Regions from separate parts of the Homo sapiens genome. Here region 2 is reported to be linked to region 1. Evidence: microRNA targets listed by miRTarBase, many of them from high-throughput screens and not tested one by one. Region 1 holds a microRNA gene; the other region holds the end of a gene's coding sequence.
The links. Region 1 holds the annotated microRNA hsa-miR-30a-5p (UGUAAACAUCCUCGACUGGAAG, at 1,824-1,845, shown strand). A microRNA usually pairs through its seed, bases 2 to 8, with sites in the 3' UTR of a target mRNA and lowers its output. Matches are read on the target gene's strand: a 7mer-m8 pairs with bases 2 to 8, a 7mer-A1 pairs with bases 2 to 7 and ends in A, and an 8mer does both.

Region 1 (5,071 bases):
TTAGCAAGATATGAGCTAGGTGAAGTCTATGTGAAAGCTAAAGCAGATTTATTCCAGTCAGATGCCAGACAATTTTACCAGTTTAACTGAGACTCATTATTACTTAAACTACATGCTTGTTTTTTTGGTTACTGAGTAGTATAGGTCCCACTTGGATCAGCAATTCTCAAAGTGAGAGGGTGGCAATAGAATTATTTAAGTAATTATTTGTTATTTGAGGTTGTTTGCTTAGTATTTACTTGTCACTGTTTTACATGTTATTTAATAATTTACAGTTATTTAAAAGTGGTAAGATTCCAAGGCAAGTAGGGGACCTGTCACTTTGAGAAAAATTTATGGTGGTAAAAATATTTTCTTTTTGTAAAGAGTCACTGATATACAATGTCCCCCCAGGGTGTAAGCCTTGGTATTTATCTATTTTAATTAAAGAGTACTCTGCCTGTCTAGTCGTGGCTAACTTAAAAGAAGTGGGTATCTTGGTGAGAAGTTCACAAGGTTGGTAGCCATAGCTGAGTTTGGTGGATTGACTCAAGCTCTAGTCAGCAGTGGTATATGAATGCCAAGTACTAAGAATTTCTGGAATGTAGAATTGCACAGCACTGATAAAGTTTGCTTTGTTCCCCTGTGTGACTTGACCCATTGAGAAAACTGGTTCCCTAGGAAGTTTTAATAGTTCAAAGTCCTTAGTTAATAAAGAAAAAGGCCACAACATAATTCAGCTTGTTTTCACCTGCTGACTCAAAGATTAACTTTTTTAACCTTAATGGGATAGAGTTACCCTTTGCTTTGAGAAAGTAATTTATGGAGTTCTTCATATTTGTTAGTTTCAGTAAACATGATGCTTTTTGTGTGGATTTTATTTTTGTTTCGGGTTTGAGATCACAAACTACTAAGACTTACACAATTTAAGAACCTTACGGTAACTTCATCTAAAAACAAATCTCAGGGAAAGGCACACCCACTTTTCTGTATCAACTTAATCTTTCACTAGATTCAGAATGGTTTTGAATTACTTCAGGAAAGTAGTGACTGATAGAGCTTAACCTTCAGTTTTCCTCATTTATTTTCATAAGAGAATGGGAGTGGAATTCAAAACATTCAAATTTGGAGTTAATGTGCGTCACTGTTGTGAGTGATAGGTTCTGTGTTTTTCCAGTGGGAAACTTTGATCCACATACTGATATATGCCTGTGTTATACCTCGTTATTCTTTTCTGTTTTTCTCCTGATTGTTGCTTACTCTTTCAAAAATCAGCTGACTGTACAAGTCCTCTCTGGGAGCAGACTTTAGAGCAAAAGTGATCTATAAAAGCAGCATGTAAGTCTTTTTTTTTTTTGTCAGAGTTTATAACTTTCCAAGTAGACCTTTTATATTTTCACGGTAGTCTAAGTTCACTCAACTGCAGTATTTGATGTTAAATGTACGCTTTACGCTGTTAAGATAATTTAGTTTCTGTGTTTGGTCACTTTTGCTTAAAGGATTGTAATTACATAATGCATGTTGAAATCATATTAAGTAACCTGGCCACTTGCCTATTTACTTCTTGTGGCTAACAATAATGAATGAAACCATTTATATATGTTGTTTTAGTATATCACAAAATTTTATAGAAACTAGAAGCTCGGTGATGAATAATAGACATCCATGAGCCTTCTTATTTGTTTTGAATTTGAGACATTTTCTAGAATATTGCTGTTTGAATGAGGCTTCAGTACTTTACAGAATCGTTGCCTGCACATCTTGGAAACACTTGCTGGGATTACTTCTTCAGGTTAACCCAACAGAAGGCTAAAGAAGGTATATTGCTGTTGACAGTGAGCGACTGTAAACATCCTCGACTGGAAGCTGTGAAGCCACAGATGGGCTTTCAGTCGGATGTTTGCAGCTGCCTACTGCCTCGGACTTCAAGGGGCTACTTTAGGAGCAATTATCTTGTTTACTAAAACTGAATACCTTGCTATCTCTTTGATACATTTTTACAAAGCTGAATTAAAATGGTATAAATTAAATCACTTTAAAACCATGTCTGTACATTTTTAGAGGGCTTCAGCAGGGCATTGAGGAGGTGCTCTGTGTATGCATAGAATTTGCAATATCAAAAAGAAAGTATTCGTAAGAGAAATGAGGAAATGTGTTACAGTATTTTTATTTTTTTTAAAAGCGTAGTAGGGCAATATTTCCCAGAAAAATCTATGAAGTGATTTGTTTTGTCCTGCCCTTTCTGCAGTTTCAAAATAGGTGTTTTTTAGACCCATTCACAAAAAAAAAATCCATTAATGAAACCACAATTATTTGGGGGAAAAAAGTAAGATGAAGGGTTAGTTATTTTCACATTACTTGGATTAAACCCCTTTTATTTCCTTATAGGCTTAGTGTTTAAGTAATAAAGTAGCAGCTCTCAGCTTAATAAAGTGTCTAAAACAAACAAATACTGATTCAACTAACTCTATTATTTGAAAAACCTATTCTTGTTTCAGATGATTAGAATAGTATTTTAGGAATTTGTGGATACTGTTTCCATTTGGTTGAACTTTTAACTTAGCTTTATGCAATAACTCATATCTCTTAAAAATAATAAATACATCAAATTCTATCCTAAATATATGAAGACAATTTTAAGATTCAGAATCCTGTAGAAGATTTCTGTGATGGACATAATTTCTAATTTTCCTTTTTTGTAAATGCGTATTTTTCTTATGGCGGATATTTTTAATATTATACACTTAAATAGAAATATTTAAGTGTATAAGAGAAATATTTAAGTGTATAATAGAAATATTAAGGATACACTTATATAGAAACTAGACACTTTAAAAAGATATGAAAGTGATATCTTTTGTCCTCTAAAACACAGTATTTTATAAATATATAGTGTTTCCATTAATGTAAAAGAGTTTCTTTTCCCTGTTTAATACCCATTGATGATGATGATAAAGAAGTGATACTAAAACAGTATGATCATACCACTATTTAAAATAGTAGCATTTCTTCTAATACCTGGGATGGAGAGAAATATGTGTTAGAAATGTCTTTAAGTTTCCCTCATACATAAAGCTATCAAAACTCTATTAGTCATGCTGGGCCATGAGAGGTTCATCAACTGCCACTGAAATGCAAGGGGCTTGGAGAGGCCTCTGCCAGGCCCTGGGTCTGGAACTGAGAATGTGGTCTATTTTAATTGGTAAGCTGAAAACCCCTGGAGCAAATAACTCGGCTGTTTTTCTGGGGTCACCCGACCGTATTTCCTAGGTAAATGACTATAGGTTTGAAGAAATGGTTAAACTTTTCCTAAATCTTTGACCTTCACTTTCTTTAGGTTCTCTTCCTATGTTATTTTATATCCTCTTCCTTACCTTACTGCCCCTAAATTTTCCATTTTTCATTTTTATCTGTTCATTTTGTTCATGTAAATAATTAGTTATGGGAACTTTTTAATTTGTAAAAATTACAGCATTTTTAATTATTTTTAAATCAACAAATACAAACCTCCATAAGCCATTCCGGGTAGTTTCAAAATTAATACCTAGTATTTCTTATGTCTTGTGCCCCACATTTCCACAGTAATAATGTAAACTACTATTTTAAAGTAACATCAACAGTCCAGGCACGGTGGCTTACGCCTGTAATCCCAGCACTTTAGGAGGCTGAGGCAGGTGGATCACTTGAGGTCAGGAGTTTGAGATCAATCTGAACAACATGGTGAAACCCTGTCTCCATTAAAAATACAAAAATTAGCTGGGTGTGGTGGCACGTGCCTGTAATCCCAGCTACTGAGGTGGCTGAGAATTGCTTGAACCTGAGAGGGAGAGGTTGTGGTGAGCCAAAATGGTGCCACTGAACTCCAGCCTGGGCGACAGAGCGAGCCTACCATCTCAAAAAAAATATATCTATATATATATATAGATATACATATAAATAAATAAAATAACATCAACAGTGTGTTATTCATAATTGAAATAAGATCTGGATGCAATTTTTTATTTTACAAAAAAAATAACTTCTAAAGTTTACAGTATTATGTTTCTACCACTACGTGGACAGAGTTACCATGCATGTGCTTAGGTAAGATAAACTAATATTTAACATAAATTAGAAACCCTTACTAATTGCTTTCATGTGTTTTTTTTCTTACTATAATTTTTAAAATTTCACATATCAGCATAATAAAATATCTATAAACTAAAACATAAAATTCTTAAAATGGACTGTAGTAAGTCAGTTACTGAAAATAAAACACTGTCAAAATGTGTTAGTTAAATGTAATGTGAGTGTTGCTATAAAGTTAGTAATGTTTAAAAAATAGCACCACACTGAGTAATCATCAAAAGTATTATACATTTAGTTTTTATTCATGATTTGCCAAAATAAAAATTGGCACATGCTTGAAAGGGAGATTTCTAAAGGAAGTTAAGAGCTTCTGAAAGTGTCAGTGGTGAATGATTTAAGTGATACTTATTTTTCCTGACCTTAAAACTCTGATTTGAACTTGCACTCCATTTTACAATGATGTTGTCTATAAATATTACACATGTATGAAGCCTTTCCTCTACTACAGAATAACTAAAACCAGACCAGAGGACTGTGGAGGCAAGGGAAATGCATTTGAAGGCCGTCTGCATGGGAATTAGTTACCTAGACCTGAGAAACCCCTTTCTATTTAGATTCCTCTCAGAATTGCTCTGTTTTCTTTTACTAGAATTTTAGCTAAACATTACCATTCAAGGGGAAAACAATCTTTCCTGAGTGGTATCAATTTTTGGTAGCTTAATAACACTAATTCAAAATTGCCCGTTATTTTTCTGTATCAGAAGAGTAACAGGAAGTTAATTGTTTATCTTAATTTTGGAAGCACCTTACTGAAATTTTAAAGGTGGTGCTTAGTGAACTGTCTTAACAATCTCACTAAAATAATACAGAAGACTTTCTTCATGTGGTTCTATATCATAAGAAGTATTCTGTATAGATATGGAAGATAAATTTCCTAGTGCGTACTGTAGTTGTTTTTGTGCACTGCCAAACAAATACATAATGAAGCTGTTAAATCATTTGAGATTGAGGGTTTTTATGATTA
Region 2 (5,071 bases), not on the chromosome of region 1:
CTCCCCCTTGGTCTCTTTTTTTGCTGTCTCTTTCTGATGACCTTGTTCCCATCTCTGTGCGTGTGTGGCTCTCTCCCTGCCCATCTCTTACCATCTCTGCCTTCCTCTCCCAGGTCTTAAACGAATATTTCCACAATGTCTGTGAACTGGACCTGGTGTTCAACTTCTACAAGGTAGGCTCCTGGTGAAGAGGAGGCTGAAGGAGCCAGAGGAGGGGGACGGGGGGGACCCGTGGTGCACTAGCCACCCGGAGCCTCTGCTGAGGTCTGTGTCCCAGCTCGAGGGGCATCAGAGCCCCAGCTTCCAGGGTCCGGGCCAGCATCCTGGGGGGCCTCGTCTCACCCCAGGGTCTCCCCTCACACAGGTTTACACGGTCGTGGACGAGATGTTCCTGGCTGGCGAAATCCGAGAGACCAGCCAGACGAAGGTGCTGAAACAGCTGCTGATGCTACAGTCCCTGGAGTGAGGGCAGGCGAGCCCCACCCCGGCCCCGGCCCCTCCTGGACTCGCCTGCTCGCTTCCCCTTCCCAGGCCCGTGGCCAACCCAGCAGTCCTTCCCTCAGCTGCCTAGGAGGAAGGGACCCAGCTGGGTCTGGGCCACAAGGGAGGAGACTGCACCCCACTGCCTCTGGGCCCTGGCTGTGGGCAGAGGCCACCGTGTGTGTCCCGAGTAACCGTGCCGTTGTCGTGTGATGCCATAAGCGTCTGTGCGTGGAGTCCCCAATAAACCTGTGGTCCTGCCTGGCCTTGCCGTCTTTGAGCCCTTGCCTGTCTCCCCTGGGAACCAGATACCTAGGATGCCTTGCCTTCAGTCCATCAGTCAGTCAGTCAACAAACGCCCCTCATTGTGCTGAGCAAGGTGAGACACCCAGGTGCTCTTCAGACCTGCTCCTGCTCACCAAGGGCCCCCAGGCTGGAAGGGGTGATGGGTTTAGATTCCAGGCACTTGCTACTAAAATAACAATACTCAGCTAATGCTGAAGGGCACTCACCCTCTCCCAGGCATTGTTCTAAGCAATTGACATGTCTTACCTTACTTAAAGCTCACTAGATTATAAGTCTGGGACTATTTTTTTTTTTTTTGAGACATGGTCTCACTCTATTGCCCAGGCTGGAGTGCAGTGGCAGGATCATGGCTCACTGCCGCCTTGACCTCCTGGGCTCAGTTGATCCTCCCACCTCAGCCTCCCAAGTAGCTGGGACTACAGATGTGTGCCACCATACCTGGTTAATTTTTTTTTTTTTTTTTGAGATGGAGTTTCGCTCTTTTTGCCCAGGCTGGAGTGCAATAGCGCTAGCTCGGCTCACTGCAACCTCTGCCTCCCAGTTTCAAGTGATTCTCCTGCCTCAGCCTCCAAAGTAGCTGAGATTACAGGTGCGTGCCACCATGCCCAGCTAAGTTTTTTTTTTTTGAGATGGAGTCTTGCTCTGTTGCCCAGGCTGGAGTGATCTCCTGGCTCAAGTGATCTTCCTGCCTTGGCCTCCCAGAGTTCTGGGATTACAGGCGTGAGCCACTCTATCCGGCCAAGGACAGGACTGTTATTATCCCCATTTTCCAAGTGAGAACATTGTTCCAGGAATGTTTCAGGAACATTAAAAGACTTGACCAGGCTGGGCGCAGCGGCTCACGCCTGTAATCCCAGCACTTTGGGAGGCTGAGGCGGGTCAAGAGATTGAGACCATCCTGGCCAACATGGTGAAACCCTGTCTCTACTAAAAATATAAAAATTAGCTGGGCATGGTGGCATGCACCTGTAATCCCAGCTACTCAGGAGGCTGAGGCAGGAGAATTGCTTGAACCCGGGAGGCAGAGGTTGCAGTGAGCCGAGATTGTGCCACTGCATTCCAGCCTGGGCAACAGAGCGAGACTCCATCTAAAAAAAAAAGACGACTTGACCAAGGTCTGTAGCTAGTCAGTAGCCAAGCCAGGTTTGTTTTGAGCCAGTTTTGAAGCCAGGTGGGTAGCTCCAGAACCCTCATTTTTATCTGCTCGCCCCGGTGGTTGTTGGAAATGTAGGCACTGGGCTTGATGATTTGTGTTTCTTGGCAACAGCACTGCTGGCATTTGGGCCAGGACAATCCCTCATTGTGAGGCTGCTCCAGAAGTGGATGGACTTTTGACTTCCACCCACCAAGTGCCAGAAGTGGCCTTCTGGCCATTGTGATGATAGAAGCCACCCCTGAGTGTTTCTAGGGCCCTCTGAAGTTAAGGGGCCCCCGATGCCCACTGAGAGCAGAGTGTGGGGGCTGCTGGCCACACCTATGCCTGGCATCCTTCGCAAGCTGAGAACACCCTGGCCCCTGTCAGTTTCTTTCCTTCCTTCCTTCCTTTCTTTTTGACAGGGTCTTATTCTGTCACTCCCCAGGCTGGAGTGCAATGGCACAATCTTGGCTCACTGCCACCTCTACCTCCCAGGCTCAAGTGATTCTCCTGCCTCAGCCTCCCGAGTAACTGGGACTACAGGCGCCTGCCACCATGCCCGGCTAATTTTTGTATTTTTAGTAGAGACGGGGTTTCACCATGTTGGCCAGGCTGGTCTCGAACTCCTGAGCTCAAATGGTCCGCCCGCCTCAGCCTCCAAATTGCTGGGATTGCAAGCCTGAACCATGGTGCTCAGCCTCTTTTTATAAATATAAACTAGCATGTTAGTTTTTTATTGCTGCTGTAACAAATTATCACAAACTTAGCGGCTTAAAACAACACAATTTTATTCTCAATGAAATCTGAAATGGGTTTCAGTGGGCTAAAATCAAGTTGTCAGCAGAGCTGTCTGGACCATCTAGGAGAGAATCCTTCCCTGCCTTTTCCAGCCTCTAGAAGTTGCCTCCTGTTCTTGGCATGTAACCCTATCCTTCATCCTTCAAGCCAGCTGCGGAGCATCTTCCAGTCTCTCTCTCTCTGGCTCTGACTGATTTTCCTGCCGCTTGCTTTTACTGATAAGGACACCTGTGGTTACATTCGTCCCACCTGGATAATCTAGGATCATCTCCCCATATCAAGACCCGGACTGTAATCACAACTGTAAAGTCCCTTTTACTGTGTAAGACAACACATCTACAGGTTCCGGAGATGAGGATGTGGACATTTAGGGCGTGCTATTATTCTGCCTGCCACTTATATGGTGTCTATGTAAGAACTGGGGGCTGGGCGCAGTGGCTCACATCTATAATCCCAGCATTTTAGGAGGCCAAGGTGGCAGATCACTTGAGATCAGGAGTTCAAGACCAGCCTAGCCAACGTGACAAAACCCCATCTCTACTAAAAGTACAAAAATTAGCCAAGTGTGGTGTTGGGCACCGATAATCCCAGCTACTCAGGAGGCTGAGGCATGAGAATCACTTGAACCCAGGAGGCTGGGTTGCAGTGAGCCGAGATAGTGCCACTGTACTCCAGTCTGGGCGACAGAGTGAGACTCTTTTTGTCCCAAAAAAAAAAAAAAAAAGAAAAGAAAAGAATTTGGGCCGAGCATGATGGTTCACACCTGTAATCCCAACACTTTGGGAGAACGAGGTGGACGGATCACTTGAGCCCAGGTGTTCAAGACCAGTCTGTCCAACATGGTGAAACCTGTCTCAAAAGAAGAAAGGAAAGGAAAGGAGAGGGGAGGGGAGGGGAGGGGAGATTGGTTTTGTTAAGGTCAAAATCACACTCTGCTAGCCGAGTTAACCAGAGAGAGGATTCTAGCCGATGGAACAGCAAGTGCAAAGGCCCTGAGGCAGAACTTGCAAGAAGGCCAGTGTGGCTGGAACAGAGTAAGCAGAAGGGGGTTCGAGATGGTTCAGAGTGGGACTGGGGATGGGAGGGGAAGTCCGATCACACAGGGCCTGCTCGGGTTTATTCTGTGTCTGATGCCCGCTATGGGAAGGATGTTTCATTTTGGAGAACCTGGGGGATGGTGGTAACAGCTTTTTTGGGATACATACAATTCACCCATTTATGGTATTACAATTCAGTGGTTTTTGTTATATTCACAGAGTTGGGTAACTATCATCACAACCCATTTTAGAATATTTTTATCACCCCAAAAAGAAACCTTATCCTTCAGCCATCACCCCTCAATTCCCCTAGCACCTGGCAACCACTACTCCACTTTGTGTCTTATTGGATTTGCCTGGGCAGTTCATATAAATAGGATCATTTAATATGTGGGGCATGGGACAGTTTTGTGCCAAATCTGATGTAAGAGGTCAAGAATTGGGAGCAGAGCTTGGGTGCAGTGGCTCGTGCCTGTAATCCCAGCACTTTTGGAGGCCGAGGCAGGCGGATCACCTGAGGTCAGGAGTTTGGCCAACGTGGTGAAACCCCGTCTCTACTAAAAATACAAAAGTATCCGGGCGTGGTGGCGCATGCCTGTAATCCCAGCTACTTGGGAGGCTGAGGCAGCAGAATTGCTGGAACCTGGAGGGTGGAGGTTGCAGTGAGCTGAGATCACGCCATTGCACTCCAGCCTGGGTAACAAGAGTGAAACTTCGTCAAAAAAAAAGAAAAAAAAAATGTGCCTAACTAGCTACTGTAACACTTGACATGGATGAAGCTGGAAAACATTAAGCTAAGTGAAAGAAGCCAGACACAAAAGGCCGGATATTGAATGATCCATTATAGGAAACATGCAGAAAAGGCAAGTGCAGAGAGACAGAAAATGATGACGGGTTGTCAGAACCCAGGGGAAATGGGAGGGAGATGATAGCTAAAGGGTACTGGGGTTCTTTCTTGTTTTGTTTTGTTTTTAGAAGACAGGGTCTCACTCTGTCTGCCAGACAGTGGTGTGATCATAGCTCATTGCAGCCTCGACTTCTTGGGCTCCAGTGATCCTCCTCCCTCAGCCTCCCGAGTATCTTGTACTACAGGTGTGCATCACCACACCTGGCCAATTTTTTTAAAAACTTTAATTTTAATTTTTTTTTTTTTTGAGACAGAATCTTGCTCTGTCGCCCAGGCTGGAGTGCAGTGGCACAATCTCGGCTCACTGCAAGCTCTGCCTCCCGGGTTCACGCCATTCTTCTGCCTCAGCCTCCCGAGTAGCTGGGACTACAGGTGCCCACCACGCCTGGCTAATCTTTTGTATTTTTT

Region 2: miRTarBase lists AP2S1 as a target of hsa-miR-30a-5p. The part of its 3' UTR that is shown has no 7-base or 8-base seed match.

What each region holds. Positions count from the first base shown.
Region 1 is chr6:71,400,369-71,405,439 of GRCh38, reverse strand. It overlaps MIR30A (microRNA 30a), which reads left to right and starts at 1,819; the gene lies at 1,819-1,889. RefSeq lists an enhancer at 2,823-3,351.
Region 2 is chr19:46,833,842-46,838,912 of GRCh38, reverse strand. AP2S1 (adaptor related protein complex 2 subunit sigma 1) reads left to right here. Exons shown (of 5, transcript NM_004069.6): 4 at 114-173; 5 at 365-746. The coding sequence ends at 466. Among named protein-coding and RNA genes, the nearest start is that of SNAR-E, 5.7 kb to the right of the region's middle. RefSeq lists an enhancer at 204-704.